Linked DNA regions of Homo sapiens: region 1 is linked to region 2. Evidence: fine-mapped expression QTL. A gene starts in region 2. The other region holds a variant in brackets. All regions are shown on one strand. Distances are from middle to middle.

What was found. PIP is the estimated chance that this variant, and not a neighbour inherited with it, causes the effect.
Region 1: its variant is fine-mapped to the expression of GDAP2 in whole blood (TOPMed, PIP 0.93).

What each region holds. Positions count from the first base shown.
Region 1 is chr1:118,156,742-118,168,385 of GRCh38, forward strand. All of the region lies in intron 1 of SPAG17 (sperm associated antigen 17), which reads right to left. Among named protein-coding and RNA genes, the nearest start is that of SPAG17, 23 kb to the right of the region's middle. The variant CG/C (reference allele first, on the strand shown) is at 5,926.
Region 2 is chr1:117,924,271-117,935,914 of GRCh38, forward strand. GDAP2 (ganglioside induced differentiation associated protein 2) reads right to left here and starts at 5,351. Exons shown (of 14, transcript NM_017686.4): 1 at 5,178-5,351. It overlaps WDR3 (WD repeat domain 3), which reads left to right and starts at 5,469. Exons shown (of 27, transcript NM_006784.3): 1 at 5,469-5,512; 2 at 9,018-9,220; 3 at 10,203-10,412. The coding sequence starts at 9,050. RefSeq lists enhancers at 5,276-5,570, 5,452-5,621.

The DNA.
Region 1 (11,644 bases), 230 kb after region 2:
CCTGCTCCCTCTTCCTTTCTCAACCTACTACCTATAGGCTGCAAATTCTGTGATTTCTTTTTTTTTTTCAGGGTGCCTTAGAAATTCTTATGAGTTTGATTTATGGTGGAAGAATATCAAGGTGGAGTGGGGAGAGAAGGGAGGCAGACTGAAGCAGCACACAGTGTGTGCTGTCATGTTCCATAATCTGGGAGAGGGCTATAACCTGACATCTGCCTCCTGCAGCAACTACTGCTTGATTCACCCTAATCTTTTGACCTCTGTTTAGCGATGTGTTGAAGCCGATTGCTCATGGCTCTTCCCAACTCTCTTCAGTGTGATTGCCTTAATAATTTGAAATATGCTACAGTAGGAGTACTCAAACTAAGGAGATGACAAACACTACAAATCAGAGATGTTCACTTGGAGAAGGTTACTAAACATTTACCAGCATATCACAGCTGCCATCCCAGGAAGAGCTGCATGTCTAAGACTGACTTAGTTATGATTTTCATTGGGAAGACCAAAGCTGTCTCAGAGAAAATATTAAGGAGGGCAAAGCAGATTTATTCCCTCTATTGCATACAAACCCCACCCCCATCCCAAAGACACACTCTGCAGCAATGCGCTATGTGGATCTATAATTAAGAGTCTGCTGATGTTGCTTCAAGTGTGACCTAGCCTTAAGTAATATCCTTCAAAATGGGCTCTATGAAAAGCAGGTGACAAGGCAAGTATAGAGACCACTGACAGGAGCAGGGGCAAACCACTCCAGGGCTCTCCTTTCCTCCTGACCATTTCCCTACTTCCCCACTCAGGCATCTGCACAATGGGGCCAATGATCTGGGAGATCCCTAAGCACCCCCTGCCAACAAATGACTAGATTCCTTCATACTGTGGTGGCCCCTTGAAGAAGCATGGGTCACTGTGGCACAGTAATTAGGAGCCTGGGTTCGATTCACTGAGCCCAGATTCGAATCTCAGTAAACCAGCTGTGTGTCCCTGGGCAAGTTACTTAACTTCTCTGTGCCTCATGCATAAATGAAGATAATGACAGTACCTGTCTATTGGGATTGTTGTGAAGATTGAATGAGAAAACCTATAGAAAGCCCTTCTCAGTACAGCACCTAGCAATAATCCTAGCCATCCTTAAAGATATTATTTTGGGGGGCTTCTGCTCTTGTTGGTCATTAGAACAAACATGGCTAGTCCATGCAAGCTGCTTCATGTGTGAAGAACTTATGGGAGACCCAGGGAAAAAAAATCAATCAGAATATCAACAGTTGCATCACAAAAAGGCAAATATGAGTTTGAACAAGAGTTTGTATAATAATTTTCTCTTGGATAATAATAAACTTGTTAACTGACGTGTTTCTAAAGTATTTTGGGTCCTTGGAAGAGAGGGCCAGAATCATGAACATATTATGTTTAAAATTCTAAAGGAATGTATAATAATTTTTTCAGAGCCATGGAAGAGAATGTGAGTGTGGCAGGAGAAATCTTCAAGTCATTTTGTGCCCTGTGCAAGTCTGCCAGAGACATTAACCTATCACCAACCATAGAAACAAACCAATTATCAATTAGAGTCAAATGAGAAGACACTGAGTTTTAGATTTTGTGCACTGGCTGACTATGAAGATGATCACCTCTGAGGTGGCCATACAGAGGACTAGGGGAAGAAAGCAGCCTCAGGCTACTTTTCATTAGAGATGTGGATCTGCTTACTTGGCTTAAAAAATATGAAAATGAATCAGTTGTTTGCTGGTTGAACTGCAAATATTAATCTGATCAATTTTGGGCATCAAGGTCTAAAACATGGATGTCATGCAGCGCTAGTTCTTAAAATAAAAACAAAAGAAATAAATTGAAGTTTATTTTTGATAGGGAGCCTTAGTGCAATAAGACACGTTTCCTGGCCTGCCGCTATATTCTGGCTTCACAGGGCTCATTACAGACCTTAGCAGAATCTACTAACTCCTTCTCCTAGGTATTACCTGCTATTCAGCTCAGAGTCTTAAGAGTTGATTTGATTATAGATATATATATACACACCCAGAGGCTTTAGTGCTAGGACCATTTTGAAGTATTTCTTCTAATATCTGCATTTCCAAAAAGGAATCCCAGTGACTCCTGGACTAACTCAAAGTGATGCCCTGCTAATGGCGGTATTTAAGGCTGTGGACTGGTCCAGTGGAAAAGGCTCCCCTAGAATTATACCAGAACAGACCCCTAGACAACTTCCTGCTTCACCCATGTGCCTAGCATATAGAAGCATTCAATAAATGTTTCTTGAACTTAGCAGCCAAAACCACACACTAAAGAGAACTTTTACACATGCTTAGCATGGGAGGGCTGACTGAGTATGTGGCATTTTATCAGCCAAACTCAGCACTTTGGAAGGAGTCATGCCTCTGAATCACCCAGAATTTGAATTAGAGAAAGAGCGCATTCCTTTGATGTTTAGACAACACTGTACATGGCTTATATTCACTGATGAAAACACAGTAGTCTAGAAACAGCTTTACTGTGCATGTATACACTGTCTGGCTGGTTTTCCTTGTCTTCATAAATATTAAATGTGACTAATTAAAATTATTGAAGTTCTGGTGTAGGTATGCAGAGAGGTTTGGGTAGTGTCAAATTCTGCCTCTGTGGTTTCTTAGCCAAATGACCTTGGGCTTATCTTTGTGACTCAGTTTCTCATTTAAAATTATGAATCTATTAATACAACTTTCAAAAGACTATTGCAGGACCCAAGAATGAATACACTTAGGGTCCTTTTGTAAATTTGTTGAGTACCACATAAATGTAAAATATTAATATATGCAAGGGAAATATTCTAATTTCCTGTAGAAAGTTCTGCAAAAATGGGTTAAAAGAGGTGACTGCTGCAGTAATTTTGAATTTTGAATTTAGATATGTCCTGGGGATCTTCTTTGTACCGTGTAGCCTCTGGCTTAGGCTGTTTGATTGTTTTTCTTTCGTTTTTCACAGAGTTCTTGGCCCATCCCACCAATCTAGCACATGAGCTTAATTCGGTTTTGCTCCATGCATCAGAGAGTTTTAAGACAGCTATTAAAACACCACATGGAAAAGCTTTGCAGGGAATTCTACTCCACAGAGAAACCACAGAGCCACTACACACCTTAACTATCTCCCCACCCCCAACAGTGGGCTGAAATTACGGCTCCATTATGTTAGTACAATCCAACCAGTTTTATGGCTTGGAGCAAAATCTGAGGTTCAAAATGAACTTCAGAACATAAAAAGTAAGGCAAACCTCAAAAGGAAACGAGCTTCTTTGGGTTTTGAAACAAATATTACATATCAGAGACATTCTTCTAACAGAGGAGACCAAGAAAAGCCAAGAGGAGTCCTGCTAATTGCTCCAGAAATGTAAAACTGGAATCAGAGACTCACCCGCCCTAAAAGGAGATCTCTTTTCATCATCATATATTAAAAGCTACAACCTTTCATCAACTCCTTCCTCAAGCACGAGACCTTCTTTGACCTTGATTGAGTTCCTTCAATGTTGCATCACTATCTTCCACATTAAAAAATAAGATATATTTTTAAGACTTAATGTTAGCTCATTACTTACTCTACTGCAGCCCTTTTGCTTTGTTTTTCTATCTTCCTTCCTGTATTGTAAATGTCATTTATACATTAAGCTTTGTGTATGTTTCATGGATTTGTTGTGCCTTGGCACTAGGGCTACCCAGAAGAAACAAAATAACCGACCAATACTCATTCTCATGAGCCATCCATGCTGTTGCTTGGTTAATTCAATCTCATGGACAACTTATTTTCTTACAGTGAATACAAGCGTCTTCATTTATCCCTTGTTTACTACAAAGCCATGGATATAATTTAATTTCTACATCCATCTTGAGTGGGGCATATCCAGGGCTACTTCTACAAACACAAGATTGCCCTGATTACACTAACTCTATCTTATTCTTCCCCAAATTCAATAAAATGTCCAAGCAATGGGAATATTTTGGCAGCCCAATTACATATCTCATAATATCCCTAATATCTGAAAGCAGGATGTGTCTGACCATGTGTTCTGATTTTTAGGTCTACAAATATGGTCTTCAAATGATAGGGTGAGAAAGAAGAGTTAAAGAAAGAGGATCCAGGGAGCAGTGCCAGATCTTCTAGGGAGCTGAGTTTGTATTATGCTAGCAGGGAATGATGGGAATTTCTCCAATAACTCCCTAGGGGTGTGTCAGAAAAACTATGAGACTGTAACTTGAGCAAGAATAGTGTCAGGGAATCTGTGCCCTACCTCAATTCAACAAAAATGAGTAGTCGTGCAGCTCAACAAGCATTTATTACATTAGTATGACTAAATGTATATGATGTAACAAACTAAGGGATACACAAAATGACTAAGATGGGAGTGTGAAAATGAGCAAACAATGCTTGTATCATGAAATAAATTTCTAGAGACTATTTCTTGTAAAGGCTATTTAACATCAGTGGCCCTGACTGGGTTTTACTGAGGGAATTAGTGTCCAGAGCTGGAGCTGTGCAGTAATCCTGACTTCTCCAGCTGCTCAGGACATAGCAATTGTGCTAGGAAAGTAAAAGGCAGTGGAGACCTGTCATAGGGTAAGGAAAATGAGGTCAGACCTTAAACAGACAAGTGGAGGGTAAAAGTATTAATCAAGATCAATCAATCCTAGTGGGAGGGAAGATAAAATTGTGGAGGGTGGAGGTGTCTGAAGTAGTTCCTGAGATCTTTCTTCTGAGAATGCTTGTAACTTTCTTTAGAGTTTCATGCAATTATCATTTTTTTTAATAGGGAAGGTTTTTTTTCTTCTTTTTTTTAGACGTAGTCTCGCTCTGTCGCCCAGGCTGGAGTGCTGTGGCAGGATCTCGGCACACTGCAAGCTCCGCCTCCCGGGTTTACGCCATTCTCCTGCCTCAGCCTCCTGAGTAGCTGGGACTACAGGCGCCCGCCCCCACCTGGCTAATTTTTTGTATTTTTAGTAGAGACAGGGTTTCACCGTGTTAGCCAGGATGGTCTCGATCTCCTGACCTCATGATCTGCCTGCCTCGGCCTCCCAAAGTGCTGGGATTACAGGCGTGAGCCACGGCGTCCGGCCAGGGAAGGGTTTCTTAGGAGGCAAACAAGAAGGACAGGTGAAAGAGAACTGGGGGGAAGGTGTCACTAAAGCCAGGGGAGGAATGGTGTATGTAGTCAAAGGCAATTAGAAGGTCACTGCTGACCTTAGCAAGAGCAGTTCTACTTGAGTGAAACTGCTTCCCACTCATTCCCTCACTTGTGTAATCCTACACACCCTCATAATTCACATATCTCCTTCATAATATAAAACCCCTTTAAGGACCACGTGACAAAGTATCCCCAGTCAATGATTAGAATAAATTTCAAGCCCTAGATCTGGTTATGGTTCTTAATTTTCTCCAATTACACAGGTACATGGAATCTATTTATTGGATACGTTAGGGCAGTAATTCATTATAATTATTCCTCTCATATTGATTCCCTAATAGAGTCCTTACAATAGCTCTTTCAATGGTGTAATAAAAAGAGCACTGGATTTAGTATCAGAAAACCTGATTGTTAGTCCTGATTCCAACCACATGGCCTTGGAAAAACATTTAAGTACTCACAACCTGGACCTTAGCAAAATAATAATAATACTTAGAGCAGAAAGTCCTTCATTCATTCAGCTAATATTTACTGAGGGGTTACAAAAATTGAAATGGGCATGGCATTGGGAATAGGCATAAGGCATAATCACTTCCCTTAAACAGCATCAGCCTGGGAAGAGAAATACACAAAAAAGGTGAAAAGAGATTACATGTAAACGTATTTCGCAGCTATGAAGCACTGTACAAATTGTTCATTTCTATTATCATATTGTTCATCCAAATGTATTTACTAATAATTAATATTTACTACGTGGGTACCTA[CG/C]TTGCATGTGCTGCCCTAGAAATGAAGGATGCAAAATTGAATAACATGGAGCCCAAATTGTTTCATATTGTATTAACTAATTCTGCAATTTGTTTTTTTTCCTTCAACATTATGTTTTGATGTCTATCCATGTTGAGATATACAGATTTAGTTCATTTATTTTAATTGCTCTTGTCTTATTTATGTTTACATCCTTTATTTCTAGGGCAGCACATGCAACATAAGTACTCACACAGTAAATATTAACTATTAGTGAAATCATACAATAAACAATACTATATGTTATTCATGAATATAGATAAATAGATACATAGGCTAAGAGGATATGTATTCCATCCATATTAGTGTTTGCTTCTGAGAAGAAAGAGAAAGAAATGGAACATAGAATGGGGGTGAGGACAAGAGTTCTTCAGCTTTAATTTTACAGGTTTATTTCAAAAAAGAAAATAATTTTTTGTGAGGGTACAAATGTGCTTGCCACATTATCTTTTCGTGCTTTTCTGCATTTAAAAAAGTACTGAAAAAAAGTGTCTGCTCTCAAAAGACCAACAGTTTAGTAGAGGAAACAGATATAGAAACACTTATAATACAAGGTGATACGCATTGACCTAGAACCCATCTCTCCCTGTGTCTTAGGAAAAGCCTCACGAGCAGAGGTCACTTGAAGAATTAGTGGAAGGAATTCTTTGTCCATGTCCTGCTTGTCCACTGTCTGTCTATGTGGTGACCTCATTCCCACTGCCTGAGAAGCACAAGGTTTTCCTGCCGCGGTTTCCTCTCCTTTTTACATTTTCCATCTGAAAACATCCTTCACTGGCCCCAAGAACTTACTCCTTTTTGTTGGGCTGAAGAAGACATTCTGATTCCTTCTTCCTTTTTTTTTTTTTTTACTAGAGCAAATGACCTCTTCTCTAACTGTGTTCCTTCAATTTTCCCATCTCTCCCTCGCCTCGCCTTGTTTTCAATCCACTCCTCTTTCCTCTCTATCCCTACTTCACACATACATGGCCATCTTCACCTAAGCCCAGACTCCCCACTAACCATTTTCCCTTATGACCTTTTTACTTCATAGTCAAACTCCCCCAAACATGTGACCTACACCAAAAGCTCCCACATCCTGAAAGGCCATAATGTCCTTAATCCCCACACTCCCACTACACTTCTTCCCTCACCACCAGCACCACCACCATACACCCTATTGAAATTGCATTCTGGAAGATCACTGATTATGTCCTCATTACCAGATATGGTTGCCTTGCCTATTCTCCCAAGGTGTTTGTATGTTGGGGACTTGAATTGCCATTTTGTGACCTTCTCTCTAACTTGACTCTTATGACACCACCCCGTTCTCATTCTGTCTTTATTCCTTTGGCTGTTCCTTCTCTGACCATCAGGCTCTTTCTCTTCTTCTGTCCCATAAACAAGGACCTTTTAGGTATCCCACAGAATTCTGTTCTCTTGGCACATATTAGCTATGGATATTATAACTACTCCCATGCTATTGCCTCTGCTCTGACAATTCCCTAGTCTACATCTCCAACTTTGCAGTCTGAGCTATATAGTCCGTATTTTTGACTTCTTGATGAACATTTCTACTTTAATGTTCTGCCATAATCTCACAGTCAGCATGTCTAAAAACTGAGCTCTTCATATCTCTCCAAACCCTAACATAACAAAACAATCAAACAAAAAAACCTCCCTATCACAAACAATAAAAACTAAGTTCATTCTACTAAATTTGTCAGTCAGTCTGAAGTTGGCCATTTCTCCCAGTCATCATAACTTAAAATCCTCCCCCATTATTCTCTCAGATATGCAATCACAGTTGCCCTCTTCCAAGAGCTTTTTGAATCTGTCTCTTCCTTTTTATTCTCATCACTATTCTCCTAGTTCTACCTATAACCACTTTGAATCTGAACTATTGAAAACACCATCTATAGGGTCTGTTTAAGCTTCCAGCTACTCTCATCTCCAATCTATTAGTTTTTCTGAGACATAAACTTTATCATTCTGTGTCTTCCTTCATGTAGAGCCCAAACTCTGAAGTGTGGAATTCAAAGCCCTTTACATTCTCTTCCTAACATATTTCTAACACCATATCTTCATTACTTTTCTAAACTCTTACTGCTCTCAGGCAAATTGCTCTGTGTAAATTCTTGAGTCTGAATTTCTTCACATAAATGGGAATACTACTTTTTTGGTTGTTTTGAGGAATAACCATTGTGTAAAGCACACACTTTATTGTTAGTGGTTACCTGTGGTATTTCAAACACGTCCTGTGTTTTCCCAGCTCTCTGCCTTGCTCAGCCTGGTCCTTTTATTCAGAATGCCCTCCTTCCAGGTCAAAGTCCTGCCTCACCTGTGACTATTTCCCTAAGTGTCTCAGCCCAACAGTGTCCTCTGCCTGCCTATGAAAACTTAGTGTCTGTATTACACAAGTAATGCAATACTTGCACTGTGATCACGGCCTTAGAGCATGTCTTGAGTGCTAGTGTGGATCAGTTTCACACTTGTTAAAGCACAAATCATCACGGTCGTCCTGGGGTTTCTGATTCAGTAAATCTAGGTTGGGGCCTAAGGATTTTCATCTCTTACAAGTTCCCAAGTGATGCCGAAACTTCTGGTGCAAGGGCGCCAGAAGTCCCACTTGGGCGCCCCTCTCTCTTGCAGGAGAGAGCTGTTCTCCTTTCTGTTTCTTTTACCAGTTAAACCTCCACTCTTAACCTCACTCCATGTGTGTCTGTGTCCTTGATTTCCTTGGCATGAGGCAAAGAACCTCGGGTATTTACCCCAGACAACGACGCTACTTCATCAAGAGTTGAAATATGACTGTAATAAACCATTTTTCACATATTTTCTTAGGTTGGTGCCAAATTCATAAGATATGCATGGCAAGTTAAACAATAGGCTTTTTAGAGGGTGCTTTGACTTGACAGTTACAGTAACAACAAGTGTAAATTAAAAAAAAAAAAACTTTCTTTTTTTTTTTTTTTTTTGAGACGGAGTCTCGCTCTGTCACCCAGGTTGGACTGCAGTGGCGCGATCTCGGCTCACTGCAAGCTCCGCCTCCCGGGTTCACGCCATTCTCCTGCTTCAGCCTCCCAAGTAGCTGGAACTACAGGCTCCCGCCACCATGCCCAGCTAATTTTGTATTTTTTGTAGAGACGGGGTTTCACTGTGTTAGCCAGGATGGTCTCAATCTCCTGACCTCCTGATCCACCCGCCTCGGCCTCCCAAAGTGCTGGGATTACGGGCGTGAGCCACCGCACCCGGCCGAAATCTTTCTTTTTACCTAGCATCCTAAATATTTGATGTGAAGACAGAGGTGGTTGAACTTAATATTACTAACCTTAAACTAGTTTAACAAAAACCCAAATATTATATACATACATGAAGTCATATACATTTTTAGGATCACATGCTTTTTCATTGGTGTTTGTATAATTGTGGAGGTTTTCTTTCTATTTCTACTCAATATATGCTGCTGGAGAAAGTGTTACAGTGTCTATGCCACCCAAACCGGCACATTACAATCATATTTAACAGAAAACACACTAAGAACAACACAAAGAATAATGATGGTGAAGGGTGAGGACAAGGGAAAGCCAGGAAACAGAATTCACTCAAACATTTTGAAAGCATTTTACAAGTTTCTGTATGAAAAATATTGAGTTACCATGGAAGTATAGGAAATGTTTTGTCATGGCTAGAAAACTGGCTTAAAGACAAAGGTAAGGTTAATTGGGCACTTCTCTGGACAGAGAAATGTTAACAGTGGGGATCCCTGGAAATCATCCATAGATGGATCTTATTTAACTATTTGTATACAAGACATGAAATAAATTATACAGTAAAACTTAAAAGCACAGGGTTCAGTGCTGGAAGATTTATTTCCTTGTCATTTTGTCTAATTTTTTTTTCTAAAATTGCAGGCTAAAACTCCAGACCTTCTGCATGTCACCACCTTGGCACAATTTTTGTGTAAATACTTATCATTGAAACCATTTTTCTTGGTAATCAATGATATTGTTTGAGCTATTGCAGGTGCTATTTTGTCTAGCCCCACCAGATCAACAAAAAACTTTTACCATCTTCAGCATCTTAAAATTTTGCATGTTAAATATTATTAAAATACTTTTACATAAAATATTTAAAGCTTTATTAATAGTGATTAAAATTTCACTGTACTATACGTTTTCCAAAAAGTTTGCTTTCTTATTTCAGTAGACAAATGCTTTGACAAAGTCAGGACCATAAATCTACATTGCAATGGTACATCTGTGTAGATATTACTTTTTGAGGCTCAACTAAATATTTCATGTCTGACAATGCTCACTTATGTTTAACTACATAACACATTATGTTAAAAGTTCTGATGATATGTTCAAAAATGTCTTTTAATTACTTTATTGATACACTTTGATAAAATTTTTATTTCAAAAACTTTAATGCATAAAGCTGATACATGATGTTCTTTAAGTTTTCTTTCATTAATGATTGCAAAATTTCTTTACTAGAAACATGAGCTTTAACAAATTCTCTGATTTTTTTAAAAGTGTTTTGCCGTTCAGCTCCTAACAACATAGAATTTGAACTTAATTTCCATCCAACATTTATATCATTAGCAATAATAAATTAATCAATTTTTAAGTAGACTCAGGTTGTTTTTCATTTTAGAAATACAAATTGTTTACTTATGTTATAATGATTTTTGTACAATATCAGAACATGCCTCCAGTTGTGACTGATTTTTTCTTTTAATCTCCTGAAATTTAGAATATTTACCTATTTATGATACTTAAAGAAACATTAAGAAAAATAACCAAATTTTGAAGTCTCTTTACTGTGGGTTTTCATTCTAAATATTTAATCTTACATTTATATACTATGTGTATTAAAAACTATTCACACAAAAAATTGAATTGCATTATAATTAAAATAAAAGTAAAACTAAACATCAGAAGTAATAATTTGAGGATGATAATTAACTTGAATAGATTTTAGATACAGGAGTAGAGATTTTAGGTACATTTCAAAGGCAGAGTCAACAGGATTTACTGATTAATATGGCTTGGTTCTATGTCCCCACCCAAATCTCATGCTCAGTTGTAATCTCCGGTGTTGGAGGTGGGGCCTGGTGGGAGGTGACTGGGTCATGGGGGTGGATTTTTCATGAATGGTTTAGAACCATCCTCTGGGTACTATTCTCACAATAGTGAGTGGGTTCTCGTGACATGTGGTCATTTAAAAGTGTGTGGCATGGCATCTCTCCGCTCACTCTCTTGTCCCTGCTCCTGCCATGTAAGACACTTCCTCCTCCTTTGCCTTCTCTGTTATGACTGGAAGCTTCCTGAGGCCTCCCCAGAAGCAGAAGCTGCTGTGCTACCTTTAAGCCTGCAGAACTGTGAGCCAATTAAGCTTATTTTCTTTATAAGTTATCCAGTCCCTGGTATTTCTTTATAGCAATACAAGAATGGGCTTATATTGATGAATTGAGGAATTGATTATGGGTACAGAAAAAGAGAAAAAATAATGAATGGAAGGCTTGGGCCCTAGTGTCTGTCTGGGTGAGTGGTGACATCATTCAATGAGAAGGTGACTACTCTGCAAAGAATAGGTTTTAAGGGAAAAGTTGGAGTTTGGGTCTTTGATACTATGATCTAGATGCCTTTAATTCTTTTCAGCAACGTTTTCAATATCTGTAAGAGAGGTATGACT
Region 2 (11,644 bases):
TTTCCCTCTTCCCACCTTTCACCCTCAAGTAGGTCCTAGTGTCTGTTGTTCCCTTCTTTGTGTCCACGTGTTCTCATTGTGTAGCTCCCACTTATAAGTGAGACCATAGGTAGGTGGTTTTCTGTTCCTGCATTAGTTTGCTTAGGATAATGGCCTCCAGCTCCATCTATGTTGCTGCAAAGGACATGATCTCATGAAGTTTTTTGAGAAGTTTTTCAGTATGGTTTTCACGTTTGTTGTCAAACAAAACAAGCATGCCCTTCCACAATACATTCCGTGATGTTTCCTGCTGAGAGACATGGGATGCTAATTGGAACAAAACATGGATCTAGTGAAATATGCTAATTCCTAAATCAACACTGCGGAACAGGAAATGTGATCATTTATATAACAATTTCAGAAAGGCCTTGTAGGTTAAACAATGATAAATTTGTATGAGAAGACTATTCTTATTTGACACTAAATACACCTTTGAAATTACTTTGAAATAAAGAAATTAATTTTACCTAAAAGTTGGTGTTTAGTCCATCAAATTGGTCTTTCCACAAGTTTTGTTGATCTGTTCATAAGTATTCAGACTTGAAATAGACAAGCTGAACAGAGGACAAATGAAGACTATATACTCTTCTATCATGGTTAAATTGCCTCATGCTCAATGGAATGACGCTTGACAAAAGTTCATAATTTCAAAAAATTACCTGCAGATTTTTTATGACAATGAGTCATTGTCATAAAAAAGCTCTTAGCTATAATCTAAAAACAAATCCATTAAACACAAACACAGTTTTCAGTTTGTAAACTTGAATGCCAACTTTCAGGACAAAATTGCTTTTTTAAGATAACTTTTCTTTCTGACTCTAAGTAATACATGCTTACAGAACATTTGAAAAATACCAAATCGGTTGGACGCAGTGGCTCACACCTGTAATCCCAGCAGTTTGGGAGGCTGAGGCGGGGAGATCACTTGAGCCCAGGAGTTCAAGACCAGCTTGGGCAACATAGTGAGACCCCATTTCTACAAGAATACAAAAAACTAGCCAGGTGTGGTGGCATGCATCTGTAGTCCCAGCTACTCAGGTGGCTGAGGTAGGAGGATTGCTTGAGCCCAGGAGGCAGAGATTGCAGTGAGCTGAGATCACACCACTGCACTCCAGCACGGTGACAGAGCAAAACCCTATCTCAAAAAAGAAACAAAACAAAAAGAAGGAAAAGAAACCAAAATTAAGGGGGAGGAAAAAATTCCTCAACTTTTGATGTAGTTACTACCTTTTTCTGTGATAGGTAAAATCATACTGGTACAATTTTGAATCCAGTTTCTTTAGTATTTTAAGGTAAATATTTCCACACACAATTACACAGTGAGGCAGAGACAGTATGGTTCGATGTGAGAATTTGGACTCTGTTATCATAGGGTCTGAGTTTGGATCCAGGACCATCATCTAATAGTTTTGTTATCTTTGACTCTGAACCAGTTTTTTAATTTCTAAAATAAGGGTAATTCTCCTAAGATTATTGTGAGCATTCAATGAGATAACTGGTGTCAAAACTGCATAGGAGAACAATTACCTTAACTTCCCTCCAACTCAAAATCATTCACTGTTTCCAACTTCCAAGTGACGATTTGAGGGTATATTCCACACGTTTAAGCCCACCAAATCACTTTAATTTAATCAATTTCCTTCATTTGACCATTTCTCCTCTTAAGAGAGTGTTACAACATAAATTCTCCTTTTACAATTACATCTTGGCTTTTTCCTTCCTCTCAATCCTCCTGTTCTCAAAAAGGTTTTCCTCCTTTATTTCTTCTACTTCATTTCTTCTTCAGAATACTAAACTCCTTTTTACCACTTGACTTTTTAAGAGTAATTTGTTTTGTAGCTCTACTTCCTCTTCGTACATTTGCCCAACCTACTGCAGTTTTGCTTCCGCTCTACAGCTATACGAAAACTACTCTATTCAACAATAACTTCCCAAATGTCAAATCCAAGAATTAATCCAATTTTATCCACATTTATTACTGATCATTTCCTCCTCAAAACTCTATTATCTTCTTTGACATTATACCCTGGTGGTTCTCCTATATCCCTGATCATACCTGGTCAGTAGAGTTTGTTGGATCCTTTTCCTAGCTTTTAAGTAATTGTGACCCACAAGATATTGGATGTTAAATAAGTAAAAGTAATGCTCATAGCTCTTATTGTAGGACAAAATTTAATGGCATTTTATGAAGTGTCACAGTATTTAACAGAGGTTGAATTCTTTTTCAACTCCATCTCTAAACAGAATTGATGTTTCTCACCAAAAAGAGGTTTGAATCTCTCCTTCCCCTAAACACATATACACCTTAGTAATACATACAGTAAATGGAGCCACAAACCCAAGCTAGGCAGAAAAACCTGATCCCTGAGAGAACAGTGGTTTTTAACATTCTCAAGGTCACAGGCCCCTTTGAGAATCACATGAAAGATACAGATCCTTTCACTCCCCAGAATATTTGTATATGAGCTCATACAAGTAGATTTGTAAATAAATTTGAATTAGAATCTCAGTGATAGAATGCAAACAGATTGCTTAAGTGACAAAGGGAGGAGGAGAAGGCTCCTACACCCAGTAATCTATAGCCACAGCCAGAATTTTTGCTAACATTAAAGGAGAGCAAGACTGTCCACTGAAAATCAGTTGATCAGCTCTGTACTTTTAATAAGTTCATAAACAAACACTAAGCCCTAGTTAAAAAAAAAAAGGCTCTTGAAGCAAGACATTAATTTCCAAGGATCAAAAAGTCTACATGGGACAAACAGAAGATTCCATAATGAATCAAATCTATTTCCATATCCATATGATCTTCAGTACTTTAGTGAAGAGGACCTAAAGACAAAGATAACCCACTATGTATCTTTTATAATTCAAATGGTGCAGTGTAAACAGCTCTCATTACACTGTAACTTGTTTTTTTTTTCCTCAAATCCTGTCATCTTTTAGTTTAAGAAGTCCTTTAAATACTGCTTAATATGAATAATTGGATTGGCTAGAGAGATCAGATTTTATTGTTCAAAACTGGGCAAAATTGGGCATAATACCTTGGATCACCATCTCAAAAAAAACTTTTTTTCTGGATAGAAAGAAAATGATATCATTTAAGAGAGAAAAATGGTAACTTTTAACCTGTTTACCTGTCTTTCAAAATGCTTACATTGATCAGACCAGCCTGGATAACAACAGTACAAAGAGAGCTGGTGCATGCACTTGACCGCCATTAATTACCGGGTTTACCATTCTTTATGACTTTGTATTTCAATATTTAACAGTTCAGAGTACATGAGGATATGTGTGCATACCATACTTAAGAATCATTTTATGCCACCATCCAACACCATACTTAAGAATCATTTTATGCCATCAGAAAGACATTTTTTAAAAAAGATTTTCAGATTGGAAGACTAACTGAAGTAGTCAAATATGTCAACAATAAATACAGTATAACAAGAACATTCCTAAGCTTGTCAATGGCTTGGGTCAAATTTAACATCATAATTCAAAAGCACCCAAAGAACATATCCTAACAGTAAATTAGTAGTACCCCTTCATATTAAATGAACTGCACTATGTTTTAATTGTAAATATTGATATATTAGGCATTTTGAAACTTAAATAAGGAAGTAGAGTTACATCCTTGAAACATTGTATAAGGAATTTTGTAAGATGCATTACCTTACCACTCACAGTTGCTCTGATACCAACTCTTATTAAAATCATTTTTTTCCATCTGTGGTTGTCCCATCCCATAATATTTAATAATATTAAGATAGTTTTTTAAGAAAAGGTAAAATCATGACTCATTCAAATATAAAACCAAACCCGTGTTCAAGATTTTATTTAACTCAAAATGGAACCAGGCAGAGAAGATAAAGAAAATCCCAGAATTAGACACCTTAGAGCAGGAATATTGAAATAAATGTGCAAAAGGAGGCAAAACTTCCACTGAATCTCTGAGAGAATTCGCATGTCTTGACAATAATTATTTAGCATTGATGTCACTTACCTAGTTTACGTAACTGAAAAATAGCTTTTTTAGAATTAGTTATTCCAAGGGGTGTTAAGATAGAATCTAAACTATGTAGTTTTCCATTGAAGCACACACTTCTCCCCATAATAATATAATGCACAGCACCTGTCAGGGATATTAACCATACATACCCACTCAAATGCTCCCTTTCCCACCAAGCTTATTAAAATAATAGTTTGTGGCCACAATTTCTTCCCTTCTCATTTATCCAATACACAGCAATCTTGTTTCAAAACTCCTATGCTGCTACAGCTGTCCACAGTCTCATCATACGCATTCTTTGCTATTGCAATTTTCTTGAATATGGAAGATTAGCTGAACATGCATTAAGCTCAGGAAACTCTAAAGAAAATCAGATAATGTAGACAAAAGTCTAATTTCTAGGCTGGCTGCAGATACCTTGTTCAAGAAGCGCCGGCAGGATCTTCTTTTGTACAGCTATGTTAGCTTTAATTTTGCACAGCTCTAGACATCAGAACTCATTTCTAAACACTTCTATGCAGCTCAAGAATAAAAGTAGCAGAAATGCAAGAGAGAAAAGCTAATTCCCACTTGGTGAAAGAGCACTTAAGTCTCAGTGAGCAAACAAGGAGGAGTCAGCCTTGGTCACTTCCCCCTCAAGCGGCCAGAGAGCGGAAACACAAAGCCAGGCCAGTGTCACTCCAGGGATTGCGGGAACCTAGACAACGCACCATCCTGGGCTCAGCGTCTACCCACCCCTCACCCGAGGTGCTCTCGGTTCCGTAGAATGTCCAGTCCACAGGAACGGCAACACGGACTTGTCTTTGGGACTACAACCAGCAAGAGCTCCCGCCTGCCCCATTTCACCTGCACCCTAGGGCGCCCGCCTCCTTGGCTACAGCACCACTGTTCCTAGTGCCCGCCGACTGCCCACCCTTTCACTTCTCGTAGAGACGGCGTCCCCGACAACGCCTCGGGAAAGAACCTAACCAACATGCGAGGAAGTGGCGCCAGGCTCGTTCTTCAAGAGAAGTGACAGAACTAACCCTCAGCCTGCAATCCTGACCAGGGCCGAGTCCCGAGCGCCTCGGACCGCGCCCCCGGCCCTCTCCGCCCCGCCTTCCCTCCCGGCCTCAGTCCCTCCTCTCACAGCACTCTGGTGGTCCCATCCGGGCGGCGGGCGGCACGGATCAGGCTCCTGGTAGAAGGCGGCCGAGCGACATCTCCGGCGACCCTCAGCAGGAGCGCGCCGAGTACGGCGAGTCAAAGTCCCAGGAGACTGGAGTGACCAGCTGCAAATGCTCTGGGCTGCGAAACACCGGCTTCCGCTCCTGGCCAGAGCTCACCAATCAGCGCCCGGCTTTCTCCGTCATTTCCTCCTAGAAGGCAAAGGGAACCTCTGGCGGAAGAGGCTTCCGGAACGGACCCGGAAGGGGCAGGTCTTGTGGGCGGGTCCAATCGGCTGGGAGCCTCGTGGAGGCTGAGGTGAGTCCTGGAGGTGCGTGGTTGGGGCGGAGAGCATTATCTGCGGCTCCGATTTTGCAGATTCTGGCTGAGGCGTTCGTGATGTCAGCAGCAGCCGAGACGGGCGTGTTAAAGGCCGGTTGCTAGGGCTGGGGGAACTCAGGTAACTACGGGCGTCCCCACAGCAGTACTTGGAAGCCCCTCAGCTACTCGGCGCGGTTGCGGGTGCTGAGCAGAGCTGCCTGACCGTGCGTGTGCACGGGCTGGCCTGAGGATGATATGACCGTGTGTTCGGTGTGTGGAACCCTCCGTCACCCTCCCCTGACCGAAGACTCGTTTAGGAATGTGTGGCAGGTCTGTTGCCACGGTCCAGGCCTTCAGTGCATCTTGGAAACATCGTTTTGGGGGCTGTAGGTTAGGAAGCGGAGATCATGGGGTCTCGGAAGAAGGTTTGGTCGTGAACTGTCAGAAAGGAGGCGAAAGCTGTGCACGTGGAACAAAGTGAACAGTGCAAGTTGTATGGGAGGTAGTTTAAATATCGAGGCGATGAAAAAAGGCTGCTAGAATTGGGCTTACTCGAAAGGAAGTGGGCCTCAGAAGATAATATTAGTTAAAAGAAGTAGAGGAGAACATGGATGTTATTCTAAGTAAAACGAATAATATGAAGAATACAAGGTCGCGGGACGAGGAAGGAAACTAGCCAGCCTGACAGGAAGGTTTATTCGAGAAATACGGGGGTTAGATAGGATGAGTTTTTGGAAACTGGCAAACGATTTAGCCTTTTCAAGGCTTTAGGATAGGGAAAGCTCATTTGAAAAGATTAGTCGGTAGTATTATGACGTTTAAATGAAAAGAGTGAAAAACATGGAGGCGGAGGTGCTAGGTGGAAAATCAGTGCAGTAATCCAGTGATAAAGAGCTGGAACTGAAAGTGCTGGAGAGAAAGGGATCCTGTTTCAGAGTAACAGTCAGGTGGAATTGACTAAAGAGAAAGAGGCAAAGAGAAGCAGTTTAGCATAGTGGTTAAAAGCAGAAATTTTGGAGTTAGACTGGCTGGATTGGGATCTGGCTTTGGCAATTAGCTGCTAAATGACTTTGAGTTAGCAATTTGCCATCTCTGGGTCTGAGTTCCTTGTCTGTAAAATAGAGATAGGAAGAGTGACTTCCCTTGTGGTGTTATTGTGGAGAATTTGTTTATTTATTTTTAGAGACAGAGTCTCACTGTCACCCAGGCTGGAGTGCAGTGGCGTGATCATAGCTCACTGCAACCTCGAACTTCTGGACTCAAGTGATCTTTCTGCCTCAGCCTCCCCGAGTGCGTCACCATGCCTGGTTAATTTTTTAAAAAATGTTTTGTAGAGATAGGTTCTTGCTGTGTTGCCTATGTTGGTCTGAAACTCTTGACTCCTAGGCCTTGGCCTCCCAAAGTGCTGGCATTACAGGCATGAGCCACCATACCAGGTCCTTATGGATAATTTTTTTATGCTCATATTTACAATGTGCTAGAGGCTTTTCTAAGTGCTTTGCATATGTTAGCTCGGTTTCATTAATTGCTGTATGTAATTAAACAATTGCATAATGTTATCAGTTACTATAGCGTAAGCACTCTCTAAATCTTGGCTGCTATAATAATATTTTTTTATTAATAATTCAAAGGTTATTAAATGGTTTTGAGCCTGAAGAGCTGGGAAAATTGTGTCTTAGTGTCAGAAGAAAAGAGAGGGGTACCAGAAGTAAGGTAGGCTTGGTTATAGACATGTTAAATGTGAAACTATAAGGTATTCAAGTGGAGATGTTCAGTAAATATTGGAAACTCTATAATTAGTATTCATGTAGGTGGAAAGGACTGGAAATAGACAGATGGGAGTCCCTGGACCTAGGCATGCTATATGAATTCTCCAAGGAAAACACTGTAGAAGGAGGTGGTAGATGGCCAAAGACAGACAAACATAAGGAACAACTACAGAGTCTGGAGGAATAAGAGGAATTGGGAAAGAATTAATCAAATGGCCTAGGCTAAGAGCATTATCACCATGTTAATATTATCTTTCCTTGATTTTAAATTGGCTTTATGTTGGTTCCTGTGAGAGAAGCAATGAGGCCAGTAAGTGATTATTACCAGAAAATATTATCAGAGAGTTGAGATTGAATTTTTTTTGTGTTAGACTAAAACAGCATTTGATAATTAGAAAGACCCTGTAGAGTTAAGCCAACCAACCAAAGAAACAAAAAACAATAGCAAAAAGAAACAGCTCCTCATAAAAGACTGTAACTTCTTTATTTTTGTGTGTTTTAAGTTGCATGGGTGTTTTTTGGGGATACTTTTTACTCTTCCATGTAAAGAACAGATGGGACTGATTTGTTATCTCCTTCATTCACCTCTTGTCCCTTTTATAAATAACCAGTGGATTATGGATTTTCAGTGAATTTAATAAAAGTGCAGAAATTATGGCATCTTTCCAAAAATAGTGTGCCAAGTTGCTCAACCATTTTCTATGCCAAGGGTAAGTGGCTGCTCTGATTTTGAAATGAAGGACAGACTTTCATGTACTAGTAGTTCTCAAAGTGTGGTCCAAGAACTGCAATAGCAGCATCACTTGGAAACTTGTTAGAAATGAAAAATTCTAGGCCCTACCTCAGACTTATGAAATCAGAAACAGGTGCTGGGAGAAGAGATGAGATGGTGTTTTCTAGCAATGTTTTCATAAGCCCTCCAGGTGATTTGGATGTATACTAGAGTTAGAGAACCACTGTACAAGAAGGTAAGTACCATGAGGTTAGGGATTTTGCCTTGTTAATAGTGTATTTCCAGTGTCTAGAATGGTGCCTGTCTAATTGGTAGGTTTTCAATAGATATTCATTGAAAAATATGTTCAGTCTCAGACTGCCAATCTCTGTGTAAAAGCTTTGATGCTGGTTTAATGGGCAGAAGTAAATCAGTTTAGCTGCATTGAGCCTATAATGTCAGATATGCATGAGGTGGGCATGACAACGTGACTAATTTGGAACTTGAGGAATGAGGGATTATATTGAGTCAACACTGAATAAAAAATGATGTCCAGGTATTTTAGGTCAATGATTCATTTAGAGTAAATAAAGATTAAGAAGTCACAAGTTACATGCTTTTAATGACATGATCAACAGTTGGTGTTGTTCTGGCGCAGTGGCTAACACCTGTAATCCCAGCACTTTGGGAGGCCGTGGCGGATGGATCACTTGAGGTGAGGCTTTCGAGACGAGCCTGGCCAATATGGTGAAACCCCATCTCTACTAAAAAAAAAAAAAAAAAAAAAATTAGCCGGGTATGGTGGCACATGCCTGTAGTCCCAGCTACTCGGGAGGCTGAGGCAGGAGAATCGCTTGAACCTAGGAGGTGGAGTCAGCTGTGAGCCAGGATCCCACCACTGCACTCCAGCCTGGGCAACAGAGTGAGACTCTGTCTCAAAAACAAAAAAACAGTTGGTGTTTACTAACCTAGTAGAACCAAGGCACCCAAGGAGCTGAGTTTTCTTTGTTTATATGCACAGATTGCTTCACCTGTGGTATCAGACATCACAACATGGGGCTCACCAAGCAGTACCTACGCTATGTTGCTAGTGCGGTCTTTGGCGTTATCGGCAGCCAAAAAGGTAATATTGTCTTTGTGACACTTCGTGGTGAGAAAGGACGTTATGTGGCAGTACCAGCTTGTGAACACGTTTTCATCTGGGACTTAAGGAAAGGAGAGAAGGTGAGCCTAAAATGACCAGTTTGATACTGATTTATTGGTATTTGAGGATGGAGAGGTAGTAGAAGTGGGGGGGCTCTGATTTATTTATCATGAGTTTTTTTGTGTCTGTGCCCTTAGAAGAAAAATCTTTTTCCTTTAGGTCTAGCTAGCCAAGCATCAAGTTCCTTTGTGTTCTTCGCCACTGAATTCTGAAAACCACAATGAAATAGGAGCTTATTTCTTAGATGTCTATTTGTTGGAATATTTACAGGTCATTATTTGCAGTAATTATTTATTCCTGATGTATTTTTTCTCTACCAATTCTATTTTTCAAGCTCGACTTATGCTTATAGCTGGTTATAAAATATTAGGCATGTAAAAGGAAGGTTAGTCTATTTTGGCAGAATCTTTTTCTAATATGGATAATGCCCAAGTGTTGTTAAAGTAGACTTTGATACTTTGTGTGACTGAATTCCCTAAGCCTACCACTTTTGCCAAACCAAATATAGGCATTTTGATATTGTCCATTCATTTTGTGATTCCCAAGAGGTTAGTACTTTGATTCTTGTTGCCACCAAGAGTCCTTTGTGGTTAAAACCACTGCAGTACTCTGTTGCCACACAGATTATTTTCTTATAAAATGGGTCTCAGTTAAAGGAATTTATAAACCTTTATTGAAAATCACGTAGTGTTGTTCTAGGGTTAAGAATTAGATTAAAGGGATTAAATTTATTTTATTGCCTAGGGAGTTTTTATATGTATTACAACAACGTAGGGCTTTGGAGAAAATAATTAAGCCTTTTCTTAAATGTTTCATTGCCTAGTACAAATACTAATTTCTATATTAAAAAACTTGAAATGGATTGTGGAGTTTCATTTTTATTCATAAGAGTAATTTGGAATTATTGGTGCTCTTAATTTTACTGTGCCTGAGTATTCCTATGCTTTTCCCTTGAGTTCATGCTTAACTCTTCTACATTGTTTTTAATTTTTATGATTTCAGATTCTTATCCTTCAGGGGCTTAAACAAGAAGTTACTTGCTTATGCCCCTCCCCAGATGGGCTACACTTAGCTGTTGGGTATGAGGATGGGTCGATCCGAATCTTCAGTCTCCTGAGTGGGGAAGGAAATGTGACCTTCAATGGTCACAAAGCAGCTATCACTACCTTGAAGTATGATCAGCTAGGAGGCAGACTGGCATCTGGGTCCAAGGTGAGCCTTTGAATCAGCCCAGGCTTTGATCTATTAAAGGAATGTAAGGCTTATGCTGAAGCAAGTTGTTGACAAAAATTGTCAGGTAAAACAATGGGCTGTCAATATACAAAGTAGTATAATGATAGAGTGAAGAGGATGGGTGTGAATTGGGTGGTTCATTTTGTTTCCTTTTGTTCATTTTGTCATATTTTCTGATAAAAGCCTCTTAAGTGTAGGAATAAGATGAAGAGAGCCATGATAACTCTTATTGTGGAAGTGCTACGCAAAACAGTAAAATAAGGAAAGAAAACAAAGACTGGAAAAGAAGAGACAAAATAATTATTTGCCATTGACTTCTGTAAAGTCAGTAGAATTTCCTGTATCTCACAAGTCATGAGTTAGAAAATATAAAAGATTCCATTCACAACAGATTAAGTAACAGACATAAAAATACCATGAAACTTTACTGAAGAATGGAATAGAAGACTTTTATAGAGATATAATCCATGTTCTTGAATGGGAAGACAAGGTATTGAAAAGATGGTAGTGTTTTCTAATTGATTTATATAGCTAAAGCTATGTTTAGACATATGTTTATATAGATACAGATATATTTAAATAGATATCTTAAAGGTTTTAGTTGTTACTTAGAACTTGACCTAATATGGAAAAGCAAAGGAATTGGAAACACTAAAATTTGGGAAGAAAAGAATAATAAAACAGGGGTTTTAGATATTAAAATGTCATATAAACCCATAATTTAAGAAGTATCATATTGATACTTCAATGCAAGTACCAATGCAAAATAGATTATTGCAACCAAATGGAAATCTCAGAAACACATCCATGATTACATTCCTAATTAGTATATTTTAAAGACGACATTTTAATAAGTAGAAAAATGATAGATTACTTATAAAACAGTCCTTAGACAATTGGCTATTTGAGCGAAATTTTTAAATTAAAGCTTTACCTCATGCTATATACCAAAATGAAACAAAGATTAAAGACTTAACTATTAAAAAATAGCATTTTAAAGTAAACTAGAAAATATGTAAGTAAATATCCGATAGCAAGGTAGAAAAGGACTTTATTAGCAAAGAAATAAATTAAAAAAGGAAACTGTTGGTAGATTGGAATACTTGAAACATTTGTACATTAAAAACAAGTCAGAGGACACTGAAAAAGTTAAAATATTTAATATTTTCAATATAAAAAGAAAGGATTAGTATCATTCATCTATTAATAAC